Regions from separate parts of the Homo sapiens genome. Here region 1 is linked to region 2. The links come from fine-mapping of genetic effects on gene expression. A gene starts in region 2. The other region holds a variant in brackets. All regions are shown on one strand. Distances are between the middles of the regions. Region 1 has its middle 19 kb from the start of MEPE. Region 2 holds the start of SPP1 (secreted phosphoprotein 1).

What was found. PIP is the estimated chance that this variant, and not a neighbour inherited with it, causes the effect.
Region 1: its variant is fine-mapped to the expression of SPP1 in whole blood (TOPMed, PIP above 0.99).

The regions. Positions count from the first base shown.
Region 1 is chr4:87,847,263-87,855,738 of GRCh38, forward strand. No RefSeq gene overlaps it. Among named protein-coding and RNA genes, the nearest start is that of MEPE, 19 kb to the left of the region's middle. The variant C/T (reference allele first, on the strand shown) is at 4,126.
Region 2 is chr4:87,970,522-87,978,979 of GRCh38, forward strand. SPP1 (secreted phosphoprotein 1) reads left to right here and starts at 5,193. Exons shown (of 7, transcript NM_001040058.2): 1 at 5,193-5,279; 2 at 6,361-6,428; 3 at 6,538-6,576. The coding sequence starts at 6,375. It overlaps LOC124900730 (a long non-coding RNA gene), which reads right to left and starts at 3,248. Exons shown (of 2, transcript XR_007058172.1): 1 at 3,118-3,248. RefSeq lists promoters at 2,947-5,189, 4,189-5,276, 5,066-5,279, cis regulatory regions at 4,199-4,208, 4,424-4,432, 4,499-4,507, 4,945-4,960, 5,135-5,144 and 1 more and enhancers at 4,451-4,471, 4,834-5,333, 5,096-5,166.

The DNA.
Region 1 (8,476 bases), 120 kb before region 2:
TGTAGAGGTTTTTTGGCTTTGTGACACTGTTCTGGAAACTAGCCCTAAGTCTCGGTTAGGGAAGGGGGAAGAGCTCTGGAAAGTTTTTGCCCCTCCTGATAAGAAGAATTTATATAGCCGGTATACCACCCTTTCTCCTTTCTTGCCCTTTTCTTGGCTTGACATGAACCTGATGCCTGGAGGAGCAGTCATGTTGTGGCTATGAAGGAAAGGACAAAATAATCCTAGAGGAGCCACTGAACCAGCTCCATCATCAGCTTCCTGCCTCCAGAATCTTTGTCCTATGAGAAAAAGAATGCTCTTTTTAAGCGACTATTTGGAATTTTTGTTGCTGCTGTTATTGGTAGGTGAATTGAATTTGTAATTGATATACCTCTCCATTCTTGACATTCCTCCAAATGAGGAAGGTCAAGAGAAGAAAAGAAAGAGGTAGAGAATAGAGAAAGAAAAGTGCACACATTTTCTCTTTAACACGTAAGTTCCCAAACAACAGAAATCATGACTGAGACATTCCGGACAGCACCTAGATTATTAAGTTGAATAATGTATGTAGCAAAGTCAAGTCAATGTCAATATGTTATGGCACCTTCAAAAAATCTAAACTCCCACATTGGGTAGATAGAGGGTGCTTCATTTACTAAATGAAAGTGGCAATATAAGCTATTGAATAAATCAGACTCTCAACATACACAAATAGTAATGGCTAACATGATTTGCTTAGTTACCATGAGCCATGCTCTGTGAAGTCCTTTTATCTATACAGCTACTCTATAATACGGGTACCATTATTACCCCCATTTTACAGATGAAGAAACAGACACAGATCTGTAAGTATTTGCTAGTTAGCTAGGATTTATACCCAAGGAGTCTGGTTCCAGAGTCTTTACTCTTAAACAATCACTAAACTGCCATATATTGCAAAGATAAATGTACATAATATACACATACATATATGACTGTGTGTATATATAGACATATATGTATACACACGTGTACATAGATCGTGTGTATATTCATCCACATAATATGAATATGTGTGAGTATATGTGTGTTCATGAGTGCACACACACAGAGAGAGAGAGAGAAACTTGAAAGAATACAAAGTAGAATCTAAAAACAAGGAATCTTTTTTTCCCTCATTTGTTCCCTATCTTCTGGAAATAACAGGTCAGAATCAAGGGAAAGACTGAACATATCACCCAATGTTACCATCAGAATTCCAGAATAAACTATTCCTAGTAATTTGCTTTTTAAAAAATAAAAGACAATTTGGGGGAAAAAAAACTGGAGGCAATTAATGAAGTAAAAAAAAAACTCTATCAGAATTTAAATTGCAGATTAATAAATTGAAATCAAACTGCTACTTATATTTCAGGTTTATATCAGAGCTTTACATGCGAATGGTCTGATCACATAAAAACACTTGTCGTGGTAAAAGAAAAATATGAACTGATGGAGAAAAACGGATGCTTTCTTTGGGTAAATACAGATGGACCCTTCCAAAAGTCACCTGTCGTAGTCTGCTATCTAGTGGAGAAACTGCGTATTTCAATTCTCTGGTCCGATTTTGTTTCCTCTCTCTAAGCTTCAGTGTTCATGGATATTTCTTCAAAACACTGACAATGTTCATATTTTTTTCATCCAGTTAACAGAAACTAGAAGTGTGTTGGCATCCACAATGCATTGCTATTTGATGCAGACGTGGAGGAATTAGTCCAAACACAAAGGACCAGAGATCCACAAGGACAGTCAGTAGTCAAGAGTGAGGCCCATGCCTTATCCAAAACCATGTTTTAGCCATCAGGCTGCGCTAATCTCAGTTAAAAAAAAAATAGATATCTGTTTCTGAAATTGGGCAAAAAACTTCAGCCTCACGTAGCTGCCTTATAAGAGACGATGGAAATTGACCTAGCCTGCCACCTTGTGCTCAAAAAGAAAAGGTCACTGTACCAGTCTGCGAGCAGGCTCCGGTTCTGTTATTTACGTGCAGCCCTGGTACTCCCTCAAACCTCACCTTCCTGGACTTCTCTGCTTGTAAATATTTACCTTGATTTTACAATACTAATTAATCTGTTCTTGGCGCGTCTACCAGTCAGGGTAACATATCTGACCTTGTCTGAAATAACATTTAGCTCAGTTGAAAAGTATTTATTGAACGACCATCTTTTACAAAATTCTTTGGAGATCAAAAGAAGAGATGCTCTTGGTCTTTATCAAAACTATAAGTAAGTAGGGAGAAAGTCATACGAAAGATACAAGGCAGAATGTGTTAAATAATAGAAATATAAGTAAAGTGAGACAGGAGTTCTGAGAAGATGAACTCTAGCTGAAGGGAAGAGCCAGGAGATAGTAAAATCTATTTTACCCAACGTATTACACATGTAGAGAGGCTGCAGACAATAAGCCTCACTAGTACATAAGAGCTTCACAGTGGCGACCTTAAGTGATCCCATGTGTAGTTTAGAGCTTAAGATAGCTCTCCCCAACCAGTGGATGGGGAAGGAGTGGTAAGCAAGGTAGGGTTCAGGGGAGTTGGAAGGAAGAAGACCAGCCAGGAGGAAGTTGCTCAACAGACTTTCTCTGCGGTCTAGAATAAACATTGTGTTATCTCCTCACTCTGTCTTTAGGGCCTGCCTTTAACTAAGCAGGAGCTCAAGACAGCGTAAGTTTCAAAGACATTATGATGCTTTTACAGAAGTCCCTTTCAAAAACAACTTCTGTATGAGAAGGTAAACTCTGCTATTCAAGAGAATGATACTTACAGTCACAGGCATTAAAATATGGTATTAGACGGCCCAAAGGAAAAGGAGAAGAAATAGATGAGTCTGAATGCATGTCAGGAAGATAGGAATTGGGGGCTGAAAGAGAAAGGGGCAGATAAATGGTTAGAAAAAATTTAATGAGGAAGTCTGGAAAGAAAAGAGAACAAAACACCGATACAATCCAAATCCAGAAATCCAAATGAGAATAATGTCAAAAACAATGAGTGGACTCACGCAAAAGCTGCAAGAAAATCTACCTGAAGCTATGGTTTAGACTTTCGAGAATAAGAACAAGAGGATCTGTTTCATTAAACGAATAATACTTTATCAATTTGTAGGCATATGGTTTAGTGTAACACAGACACTCCCTGTTTAGAAGTGACTCTTGCTAGATTTGAATTTTAAGTAGATTTTTATAATTGTTAGGTTAACAGATTAATAATAGAAGTCAAACAATCTTAAATAATTTTTACTTAAAACAGCATCAGGAAGATAGAAGTATTAGGTTGGCTCAAAAGTAATTGCCATTACTTTTAATGGCAAAAACAGTCATCACTTTTGCACCAACATAATACTATGTGAAGAAAGAAAGTTGTCTATTTAGCAAAGAGGTAATTCTGAGCAGGCCAGCTGGGGCAGATCTTAGACACATTGCATTAATAAGTGAATGGAGTAATATTTGTGATATAAGGCCATGAACGGGGTCCAGGGATTTCCTTTTTTAACAGGTCCCTCAAATGATTTTAATGCAAGTCAAAGTTTGAAATCACTAATATGGATGTCTTTCCCAGTGACCTTCAAATCAGTCACCTGGGTCTCCCACAAATCTATAGCTAGTCCAGAACTTCCCCTGTATTAACCTACCATTGCAGGAATGTTTCAGTTTATGATGAAAAATAGCTTGTCTTTGTGGATTATCTTATATCAACAAATAATAAAAATATCATTTAAAGTGAACGTACAAGGCTGGGACTGGTGGCACAAGCCTGTAATCCCAGCACTTTAGGAGGCCAAGGTGGGGCAGATCACCTGAGGTCAGAAGTTCGAGACAAGCCTAGGCAACACAGTGAAACCCCATCCCTATGAAAAATACAAAAATTAGTCAGGCCTAGTGGCACAGGCCTATAATGCCAGCTACTTAGGAGGCTGAGGCACAAGAATTGCTTGAACCTGGGAGGTGGAGGCTGCAGTGAGCCAAGATCGTGCCACTGCACTCCAGCCTGGGTGACAGAGTGAGACTTTGTCTCAAATAAATAAATAAATATTAATTAATTAATCAAGTGAATGTACAGGACAGCATTTAAAAATGGACCTTTACACAGGCTCTTGCAAAACAGAAACTATTCACAGTGCATATACGTGA[C/T]TTCCCCAACTCACTACTCTGTGGAAAATAATCTGGTGATTGTAGAGCCGTAGTGTGCCATCGGTCACGTACAAACCGGTCATCCTAACAGGATATGATCACAACCATTCAAAGTTTATGTGTCTCTGTAAAAGACAGAACAGAAAGTGTGACAAGGAAACAAAGTAGGAACAGAAGGAGCAAAAGTTGAAAGTACAAGGGCGCAAAAGTCACAGTATGCTGATTCGAGACTAAGCTTGCTGCCTTATGTTGCGCAAAAGTGTGAGTTCTACAATGAGATCACATGGACACAGGAAGGGGAACATCACACTCTGGGGACTGTGGTGGGGTGGGGGGAGGGGAGAGGGATAGCATTGGGAGATATACCTAATGCTAGATGACGAGTTAGTGGGTGCAGCGCACCAGCATGGCACATGTATACATATGTAACTAACCTGCACAATGTGCACATGTACCCTAAAACTTAAAGTATAATAAAAAAAAAAAAAAGTGTGAGTTCTAGAAGAGCATTCCCTATTAATAGAATCTTTAGTTAGTAGAATTTTAAAGCAGTGATCCATAAATTTCTAGTGTTCTACAAAATCTGCCTCTGTCTTGGTTCAGTGTTGGTGCTCTGTCTTCCACAGAGATCCGGGTTGATGAAAGGCCCTTCCAGGGAAGAGCCCCTCAGTTGCACCATCATGTTATTCATCAGGGCCAGATGAATAAAGAAGGGACGTACAAGTGTGAAAGCCCCCCAGCATCTGAGCCTACCGGTAGCCAAGAGAAACGAGTCTCCAACCTGGTCTTTTGGCTTCCTCATTTCAGCTTACTCTGGCCTGTTCATCTAACACTTACTAAAAGCATGTGACAGTAAGCTTTGAATCAATTCACATATCTTTCTCTCTCAAAATAATGTTTTTAGTTTTCTGATTATGAGAGAAATGAAAAACCCATTATATAAAATTACAAAAAAAGAAAATATAAAAAAAAATTACACTTTCATCACATTTTTCCTCCCAGTTCTTTTTCTAACTATATACTGACATATATTCTAAGAAAACATTATATTCTTTTAGTGTTCTTTTCTGCTATCTTAATTTGCTCTTTTATCACATTACCAAATATTTTTAAATCATTTTTAAATTTTATTATATACATTTACCACAGTTTGTTCAGTCTACTATTGAAGAATATTTAGCATTTTCCCAGTTTGTCTCTATTATAAACTCTTGTGTTTTTTCAGCTTTACTGAGGTATGATTGACAAATAAAAATTGTATATGATGCTTAACCATTCTTTTTAAATGGCTGCATAAAATTTGCTGCTTTGATTTACTGTCATTTTTTTAGCCACATCCCTATTGATAGGCATTTAAATGATTTTTAGCTAATCACTATTCAAACAGTGTTACAATAAACATCACTGGTCATGTATCTTTGTGTACAACAGTAGGGTAAATTTTTAGCATTACCAAGTCTATTTTAAATATGAGATACAAAGATGCAACATCAAGTTTCATATACCTGAGCAAGTAGGTTCTTAGAGCAAGTAAGTGAATATTGCACTTTACATAAATTTGCCTCTGTGACACTTCCACCTGCACACAATATGCCCCAGGGCAGTTAATTCCAAACACTGGTGACAGGCTAGGTCCAGTGGAGTCATCTGAAGATCTTTATCAGAAAGCACAACCCTGGAGCTCATTCTCAAAGATTCCGATTCTTTGGTGGGTCCTAGTATTCTGCATTTTAGGAAACTTCCAGGTGACACTAATACACAGCCAGGTTTCAGCAACACTGCCATAAGAACCCGTATTAAAGAGCTTTTAAAATGGAAAACCAGAAAATAGTCACTAGATGGCAACCTCGCTCACTTTTTGAAAAGCATTTTGAAACAAAGCAAAGAGAGTTTTTAACTTTCATTCACAATTAAATTTGGAAATGTCTCCCTAAAGGAAGTTTAAAAAAAAAAAAAAAAAAACATACAATCAGGTGCCTCTCTTTCATAATGCCCGTATCCTATTACTTTTAAACTCCATAAATAAAAACAAGGGCTCTTTTGTTTGAATAATAACAGCCCCCTCTGGAAACTTAATCTAGTTTTTGTTTGCATACATCTCTCCTATAAAACTCTGAATTTCCTGTTTCCTTAGATAATAAAGTGGAATTTGTCTTAAAAAGTCTCTTTTCTTTCTTACTAATGTCTGAATCTCCTTAAAGCCAAGATCAGCTGTGCTTAGTTTTGTGAGGCTAAACCCCCTGACATTAACACGTTGCCATTCTTTTTCTAACTGGCTCTATACAGGTGCAGAGATTCTTGGAAGAAACCTTAGAGATCATCTGGTCCAGTGCTCACCTAAGGCAGGTTCACTGTGTTTCACCCCTAATAGCTGGTCATTTTGCCACTGTTTACATACTTACACTAACAGGGAGTTCATTACCTTACCTTACACTTTTGGTGCTAGGCAGAAAGATGCATTCATTTTCCACATTACATGTTTCCTGTTTTCTACACTTCTCCTCATCAAACTAAACATTTTTCAATGACCTTTCATGTGCTCTTTCACCACACTTACCTCCAGTTGGTTGGGCACAATATTCCACATATTGTTTGAACATCTCAGCAGACCATGTAATAGTCTACCCTTTATTCTGGCCACTCAATCCTGTTAATATAGTCTAGGATTGTGTTAGACTCCTTAACATCTACAAAATGCCTATGTCAGCACTTGGTCCAAAATACAGGCTAAATTCATATTAGTTTCCCTTTCTCCTTATTTAATTTCTAATTATATAAGTACTAACTTCCTTCTGGTTTTTGTTTGCTCATGTGCTTACTCCATAAAAAACAATATTAGACCAGCTCTGCTCTTTGTACAGTATTATATCATTTATTTTCTGATCCAGGATGCATAATGCTCTATTTCACAATGCTATTTTATTGAAGTTTCTTCAATCTCGATTTTGTGATCCTAAATATTAACTATCACTCCCAGTTCTTAAGATGCAAATACTTCCTGGGTGTTCATTCACCAGTTTGAAGAAATTTTGAACAGGGCAGAGGGCAGGCTAGGACAGTGCCTGCAGCATATTGAAGTTGGCCCCCTTGTAGCCTGATGCTGATCTATTTTTTTTTTTTTTTTTGAGACGGAGTCTCGCTCTGTCGCCCAGGCCGGACTGCGGACTGCAGTGGCGCAATCTCGGCTCACTGCAAGCTCCGCTTCCCGGGTTCACGCCATTCTCCTGCCTCAGCCTCCCGAGTAGCTGGGACTACAGGCGCCCGCCACCGCGCCCGGCTAATTTTTTGTATTTTTAGTAGAGACGGGGTTTCACCTTGTTAGCCAGGATGGTCTCGATCTCCTGACCTCATGATCCACCCGCCTCGGCCTCCCAAAGTGCTGGGATTACAGGCGTGAGCCACCGCGCCCGGCCGATGCTGATCTATTAATCAATACTTTTTGGGTGCAGCTGTTTGGTTAATAATGACTATGGCTCTATTATTAACTGGCCTAGATATGCTCACAAAAGAATTTTGTCAAATGCTTTGCTAATATCAATATGCTGAGCTCTACAGCATTTCCTAAACCTACAAGACCAGCAATAAGATCAAAAATGCAATCAGGCTGGGCACGGTGACTCACACTGTAATCCCAGCACTTTGGGAGGCCAAGATGGGCAGATCATTTGAGTCCAGAAGTTTGAGACCATCCTGAGCAACATGGTGAAACCCATTGTCTACAAAAAATACAAAAATTAGCCGGGCGTGGTGGCATGCTCCTGCGGTCCCAGCTACTTAGGAGGCTGAGGCAGGAGAATCGCTTGAAACTAGGAGGCAGAAGTTGCAGTGAGCCGAGATCGCGCCACTGTACTCCAGCCTGGATGACAGAGCAAGGCTCTGTTTCAAAAAACAAAAGAAAAAGAAAAAAATGAAATCAGAATAGTGACAGTACAGAAAACTGTGATAATGTAGACTTAAAAAAAAACTAAAGGTTTTTTTTTCACCTTGGAAAGGTGAAATAGATTACAACCAAATTACAACTGTAATCCCTGGACACATGTAGAACAGACCCAAGAAAACTCTGAAAGGTGGAGAGAATTAAAAAGATGGGCCAGGGACCTTAAGACTCAAGGAATGACAAGGCATTAAGCTTCCTGGGCTTTTTTTGGTCTCATATATCCCAGACTTGGAGCTCCAGATGCTGGCAGCCCAGAAACACCAAATACAGACAAAAAAAGCCTGCACACTCTAGCCAAAGGAACAGGAAAGGGGCAGTCCAGCAACGCTGAACACTTTTAGACAATAACCACTCTACGCCAGCCAAACACCGCAGAGAAAACTGTGGCCCCAACCCCACCCACACAAGCCAAGG
Region 2 (8,458 bases):
AAGGTTTTATAGGGGATGCTTTGATGCATGATGTGCAAATATTTCAGAGACAGGTGCGGATGAGACTGGAGGGATATTCTAGATATAAGGACCATGCAATGTGAGTAAAGGCATGGAGACCTGAAATAGAATGACACACTGGGGAACCCACATGGCTCTGCATGATTGTTTTAGGGAGTACAAGGAGAGAAGTTGGGCAGAAATAAGGCTGGAGAGACAGAAGAATGCCAGACCCCAGAGGACCTCATGTTATGTAAGAAATAGCAATCACCTGGGCAGTCCTTTTTAGGCACAGGAAGCATGCCTGAAGTTCTCAGGTGTAATTCACTCAAGCGGAACACTATCTATATTGGAATCTGAAGACGTTTAATTCAGGAGGCCGGGAGCGGTGGTTGATGCCTGTAATCCCAGCACTTTGGGAGGCTGAGGTGGGCCAATCACTCAAGGCCAGGAGTTTGAGACCACCCTGGCCAACATGATAAAATTTCATCTCTACTAAAAAAAAAAAAAAAAAAAAATTAGCTGGGCATGGTGGTGCATGCCTGTAATCCCAGCTACTTGGAAGGCTGAGGCACAAGAATCGCTTGAACCCAGGAGGCAGAGGTTGCAGTGAGCCGAGATCGTGCCACTGCACTTCAGCCTGGGTGACAGAGTGAGACACTGTCTCAAAAATAAATAAATATGTTTAATCTGGGGCTTTATGAAGGCAACAGAAAATAATCAGCAAGAATAACTCAATTTATGTAAGAACTATATACATGTCATAATTGAGCTAAATTTCTTCACTGAATAAATATTTTTGGCACATAATCTGCAGAGGGATTAGCATATCATGGAACTTACACTCTATGAGGAATTCAAACATTAAAGAAGAAATCAAATTTTAATATAGAATATTTTAAATTACAGGTTTAAGAAACATAAATGTTATGCTATGGGATAGGGGCATTAATGTAAACTATGCCTTGACAAGAATTGTCGAAACAAAAAACCTTAGCCAAGTGTAACCAGAAAAATATCTGACTGAGCTGCTTTTGTTGTCTAGTTTTACTCCCCTTTCTTTTGATTTTGTTTTCTCTTTTGCACTGAAATTGTCACCTTTTCATATCAACCTTATGATAGATTCTCTACCAAAAATTACTCAAACATCAGATTTTAAGCAAGAATTCTCATAAACCAATTTCGGAGAATGATTTTCTCCCCTCAAATATATCTGCAAAATGACTGTCACTGACCGCTTATTGCCACAAAATGTCTTTTTCTGAACAAACAAGGTCCTCCTGCAGCTGCTAGACTTTCTATTTGTGCTTTTCCACCTTGTTCTATCTCCCTCTTTGGATCCTCTCTGATTACAGCCTCCTCTATTGTTCCCCAGGTTGTTATAGGTCTCGAGTTTATGCTGCTGTGGTTGATGTTGAGTGGGAAGGGGGACTTTCTGTTTGGATCCAATCCCAGAATACCCATCCCTTCAACTCCAATGTGGACACAGGGTCTCTACCATATACCTTCTCTACCCAGGGTGCTGCCAAGTTTACTGTTTAGCCACACCCCCTTAATCTCATTGGTTACTCAAGTTTCAAATTTCCTAGTTGATTTTCATGAACAAATGGGCTCCATGAGGGTAAGAATGGTGTCATTTAAGAAAAAAAAGTTAGTAATTTAAGTCTACCTTAAAAAAGTCTATCATTTAAAGAGCATTAGAATGTCCTCAGAGTTACTAATACTACTTTAATGAAGAAATAAATGCTAGATTCTTGAGTACAGGCAGATATTAGATATCAATATATGAGATATACTCTGAATTCAAGCATAGTGCCTATGCATTGTATTCATAAGCAAAAACTATAAGGTCAGAATTCGTGTCATAGATGCAGGGCTGAGTGGGCAATCACCAACAATTTATTGAGCACTTACTCCATAACAGTTCTATGTGTCTAAAGGAAAACTTTTTTTTATTTGTTTTAAATTGAAACTAATGTTTACCAATGGTACGACCACTTTGTCAGGAGCTGACTTTTGTTGTCTAAGCTATTGAGCAATGGAATAAAAGAGTTTATGGTGTTTTTGTTTTTTTTTTTTTGTATTTCTGAAATGCTCTAATTTCATGTCTGAACTTGAAAATAGCACCCTCTTATCATCCACCTTTGCTTGCTACCCTGTGATAAATAATGCCCCTTTTCCCAGTCTATATATGATGAATGGTGCTAGGCTTCCGATTAGCTTTAATTCCAAACTTCTTTATGACAGATTAGTGGTGTTACCAAAATATCAGAGTCATGTCTGAACCTTGACTCAAGGGAAAAAAATAATTACCTGTGGAGCTGAAAACACTGAAATAGTTGGTTACACTTTACTAAGTAAAATATAATTAGAAATGTTCAAATAAACTGGAAGTGAGTTTAATAAAGTTGTCCACCAAAGTAGTGACATTGAACACTTACTTTTTATTATATGGGAATTTTCATGTAATTCAGGAAAAAGACCTTAAGGCTCTTTATTTGTTTCCATGTGTCCTCTTAGTGTGTATAATTTAAGATCACAAATTACTCTTTGCATTCTAGTTTGACAACTAAACTTTTTTTACTTTCCACTCACAAGATTTATAGGGAATTTGTGCATTTTGACCTTTTGATTCTAACAACCAATCATTAGCCAATCAAGAATGGAAACTTTGGAAATATTACAGATAGAGCCACTGTGATTTAAATCATTTAACATGTTAATTCTGACAGAAAATCCTACTCAGAAAAAACAACCAGCAGCAGCATGTTTGAGTGCAAACAGCAAGAAACATCCCAAAACATGACCTCCCCGATAGTCAGAATGACGCAGCATCCATTTCCTACTTTACAGAATTGCCTCCCATTATAAATCACTTTATCTTCTCAACTCCAAAGCATCCCAGACACATTCTTTACCCGTGAATTCACAAGCCTTTTCTCTGAGAGAGGCCTTGGGACTAGGAACTTTTTGAATGAGTGTAGAAGTCGGGAAGGAGACAATAGTGTCAACTTGGGATTGCCTAAGGCAACAACAGAGCAAAACAAGAACGCTTTGGTTCTCTGGGTCTCTGTCCCTGATTGCATAGCGGGTCATTGTTGGGAAATATTTCCTCACCTGGCATTCCAAGAAATGGAGAGCTCCACAGCTGTATATAGTCCTGTCATTAAATACAGGAGTGTTCTATCCCGCTGGAATTAAGAAAATTGGTAGAACCAGATTGTGGTCTGAAATCTTTTTTCAGAAATGCTGCCATCGTGTGGCACTGCGGAGCTATGACCAGAAGAGTCCTGTAAAGGGTCGTATGGTTCATCTCAAGATGGCTGGGCTCCAGCATAATCTATTCCTATAATTAATTCTAGCTTCATATTGAATCATTCCCGTGGGCACAGAGTAAACTACAGTAAATCCTGTGGAAATTTTGTTGTTTTTAGAATTTTCAGACTTCCCTCCACTAAATTGACAACATGACACGCTTATGCGGGTATGTTTAAAGGAAAAAAATAGTTTTTAGAAGCAGAAAAAAGAAGTCTATTTTGCAACTTTATAATCTGTGTGCTTTCTATTTTATAGAGATAGTCGTCATCTTACTTATTAAAATGGGTGCTTATTACCTACAAACCAATCATATCAATTCATCTGGAATACATCCAATTTAAGGGAGACATATTTCCCCCTACCAAATGTTCATGAAACCTATGAATTAGCTATACACTATCACTGCAAGACATTATTTAATCTATATTTATATTAAAAGTAATATTTGGCAAAAGGAAGCTGACACTTTAGGACTAATAAAAACCACAATTACTTTTGCAGCAACCTAATAATAAATAGGACCATTTATTTTTCATCTCAATTACACACAAGTCTTAACAATAAAGGTGTAAGGTAAATAAATAGTGCAATCTGCATTTCACAACTGAGAAAGCAAATGAAGATAAGTAATCTCAAGGCAATATTAAATATTTTAAAAGGACCCAGAGCTCTGCTATCCCTGAATTCTGCTCTAATATTCGGACTTTCCCTGTAATTTTCTTTCATTCAGACACCTTTTAAATACCTAGTAAAGTGTTTTTTAATACAGAAATTTTTAAAAATGTTTTTCTTTTTAAGTGGCCTACTTTACATACCTTGGGAGAAAAACTAGAAAAAAAGATGATTCCAAAATCGAATCTGTTCCTTTAGAAATGTGCAAAATTTCCTTATTGATGCATACAATTTAAAGATCTTACGTCTACTCTCATTTTAATAACCTGTTCTTTTAAAGGACATTACAATTCGTGACTGCCTGCCCCTCTTAAAAATTTCATAATAGTTAACACACATATAGTCCTTAAGATACGCAGAGCATTTGCATCTAATATGTGCTAAGCATTGCTAGTTTAACATACTAATTCATTTAAACCCCTCAAAAACCCCATGACCTAGGTAATAGTATTGCATTTCATGGATGAGGGAACAAGGATAGGTAGGCTGGGCGATTTGCCCAAGGTTGCACAGGTCAGCAGTGACACAGCGGAATTCAGAACCACGGTCTGGCTCCTGAAGCAGCCCTCTCAAGCAGTCATCCTGCTCTCAGTCAGAAACTGCTTTACTTCTGCAACATCTAGAATAAATTACCATTCTTCTATTTCATATAGAATTTTATATTTTAATGTCACTAGTGCCATTTGTCTAAGTAACAAGCTACTGCATACTCGAAATCACAAAGCTAAGCTTGAGTAGTAAAGGACAGAGGCAAGTTTTCTGAACTCCTTGCAGGCTTGAACAATAGCCTTCTGGCTCTTCAATAAGTACAATCATACAGGCAAGAGTGGTTGCAGATATTACCTTTATGTTACTTAAACCGAAAGAAACAAAAATCCATTCTATTTAATTTTACATTAATGTTTTTCCCTACTTTCTCCCTTTTTCATGGGATCCCTAAGTGCTCTTCCTGGATGCTGAATGCCCATCCCGTAAATGAAAAAGCTAGTTAATGATATTGTACATAAGTAATGTTTTAACTGTAGATTGTGTGTGTGCGTTTTTGTTTTTTTTTGTTTTAACCACAAAACCAGAGGGGGAAGTGTGGGAGCAGGTGGGCTGGGCAGTGGCAGAAAACCTCATGACACAATCTCTCCGCCTCCCTGTGTTGGTGGAGGATGTCTGCAGCAGCATTTAAATTCTGGGAGGGCTTGGTTGTCAGCAGCAGCAGGAGGAGGCAGAGCACAGCATCGTCGGGACCAGACTCGTCTCAGGCCAGTTGCAGCCTTCTCAGCCAAACGCCGACCAAGGTACAGCTTCAGTTTGCTACTGGGTTGTGCATTCAGCTGAATTTCATGGGGAAGTCCAAATTCTAAGGAAAAATATTTTTAATTGTAATGCTGTTAAACAGACTTAAATTTTCTAGCCTTTTTAATAAGCAGATTAGATACATTGCAGGTCTCCTGGAACAAAGGTGTCTAGATATTTTGAATGCCAATCAAATTTAAAACTTAAAAATACTTCCACTGGGTCCTCAAAAGAACGGAAACCACCGATGCTAATCAGAAAATAGTAAAATTAAATTCCCCTTTGGAATAATTATACCTATATAATTTTCAGTGGGTGACTGTGCAGGAATTTAAAAGAAAAGGGATCTTTTATGCTAATTAAACCAATTACAATGCTATTTTTTAAATGATGTATCTCACTTTTAAGGGGAAGAAAACCCTTTCTGAATATGCCACTGCTAAATTTAGCTGTTAAAATATTCACCAAGATACCTGTATGACACTGTGTAGGCTTATTATTACAAATAGAAAAGCTGTTGGCTATTTTCAATGTTTTCCTTTGAATTTCAAATTTTTAGAACATCTTACTTAAATAACAAATTTCAGAGATAGTTTGATTTCACCTAAGTAGCACCTACTTGATAATTAAGCTAAAAGTCACATTTAAAGTACATGTTGGAAAAATGGATAAAGCAAATTTTTTTCATTTTTTTCTGTGAGTTTTTTCTTCTCTAAAAAATATTCCCATACTAGCTTATTAATATAATTAAGTTACTGTTGATCTGTTTGTAGGTTTAGAGAGCTAGATATATAAGGTAGTAATGGTATAATTTCTGGAACTCTAAATTTTAAAGTTGAATAAATACAGACTTGCAAAATTTCCCTTTCCCTTGCCTAATAGTGAAAGATGGATAATAGGTGGCAATATAAATATTAACTTGAAAGACTATAATACTAAAAAGAAAAGGCATCTCTAAGAAGTAGAAAAGATTCTATAGAAAATATATTTTATTTGTGATCATTTTGTAATGTGGTAGTATAAAAAGGTATCACTGTTGTAACCTATGAAGATGTCAGCTATTCCTTATGAAATATTTTGCAGGAAAACTCACTACCATGAGAATTGCAGTGATTTGCTTTTGCCTCCTAGGCATCACCTGTGCCATACCAGTGAGTACAGTTGCATCTTAAAGAAAATTCCTGAAAATAACTGAATTGTGTGCTTCCATGTGCTAGGAGGACATTCTTGTAATCTTTCTTCATCTTTTCTGTTTCTAAGGTTAAACAGGCTGATTCTGGAAGTTCTGAGGAAAAGCAGGTAAGCATCTTTTATGTTTTTATATAGTTAAATCATTTACTCAATTATGGCGAGAGGTGCAAGAAACGTATTTGCTGCGATATTACTTATCTTCTCAGTCAAATCCATTGGTTTACAAGTATTGATTGACTGCCTGCTATGAATCTAGGCCAGTACCAAGCACAGTATAGTTTTTAATAAATATAAGTTTATAAAACCAACCCAGATATTTTAAATATAATAATATCTAGGCATGTATGATGAGTTATCGCATGTAAGATAAGTTATATGAAGTTGTGTGACTTTTTTTCCATTAGTCCACATACTGATCTAAAAGCAGAAAATTCCAGCTTTTGCTTTGTTTAGTGGATTGCTAAGTTTAAAATTCACATTGGATATTAGTCAGAACTGTTTGTATGACCATAATATTCACAATATTGTCTGAGATATTAGCTGAGAAGCCCATTGTGAAAAGAAAGTCTATGTGTGCTGTTTGTATCTATTGTGATTGTCAGCTGATGTTAGATCACATTTTCTAACCAAACATAAGACCAACCAAACTCTTTATTATAATTATTTGACCAGCACTAAAGATGTACCTACCCCTCCACAACAGATGAAACTGTGCCAGCCAAACAACAAATGGGCATTGTCCCCAGAAGCTTGGACAAAAAGGCACACAGAGTTCAATTCCAGTTGAACAGAATAAAGGCCAAAATAGAGCTGCCTTGGGGGTCACTGCAATTAGACTGCTTAATGAAGACATTAAAAGAAGTATTCTGTGTTCGTTTGTGTGTGGAGGGGTGTGTGTGTCTGTTTTTCAACTGATTTGAAAATACAGGTGTTGAATCCTAATAATAAACCAGAAAAATTAACATCTCCAGAGAAGATAGAGGTCATACTATTTGAGGCAAGAATTAGCGTCTTTTTAATAAACGAAAATATGGCAAAGATGCATTTTAGAAGGCACGTGGAGCTATAACAATTTAAGAAATACGTGAAGAGCTCAAGGCTCAGCCTTCTAGAATCCCAGAAACTTAAAGCTAGTAAAAAATTGGGGAAGTCTCTAAGGATATATGCCTGAAAATACACACTGGTTATCTGTGAGTGTTAGGATTACTGGGTGGTTTTTAGTCTATTCATTTTGCTTACCTTTATTTTCTTCATATTAGTTTTTAAAAATTATAAATGTAACTTATACATCCATTCTCTCTGAGCCTGTATTACATGTGTCATGAGAATAGATAGATAGATATGAAAAAGTGAAGAGAAAAACTCTGAACTCATCTGGTCTCACTGTTTTTCCGCCTTCTTTTTTTTTTTTTTTTTTTTTTTTTGAGACGGAGTCTCGCTCCGTCGCCCAGGCTGGAGTGCAGTGGTGTGATCTCGGCTCACTGCAAGCTCCGCCTCCCAGGTTCACCCCATTCTCCTGAGTAGCTGGGACTACAGGCGCCCGCCACCACGCCCGGATAATTTTTTGTATTTTTAGTAGAGACGGGGTTTCACCGTGTTAGCCAGGATGGTCTCCATCTCCTGACCTCGTGATCCACCCTCCTTGGCCTCCCAAAGTGCTGGGATTACAGGCGTGAGCCACTGCGCCCGGCTGTTTTTTCATCTTCTTAAAGCAAGGAACCCCTTCTTTCAGCAAAACCTTTCGGAGAAGCCCAATACTAAGCTCCTCTGGTTAGAGCCAGCCATGAGAGAAACTCCAAGTACTTCTGACTGGTTCTCTCTCTACTCATCCACCCCTTAGGTGGCTGCAGAAGGAACTCTGTGCAACCCCCAGAGTTCTCATTCTCAGTGACAGGGAAATGTAATGATTGGCCCTGGATGATTCAGCAGATCAGATGATACTTACTCAGAGCAATTTCCACTCCTTTGCAGTAGCATATTATCAGTATTT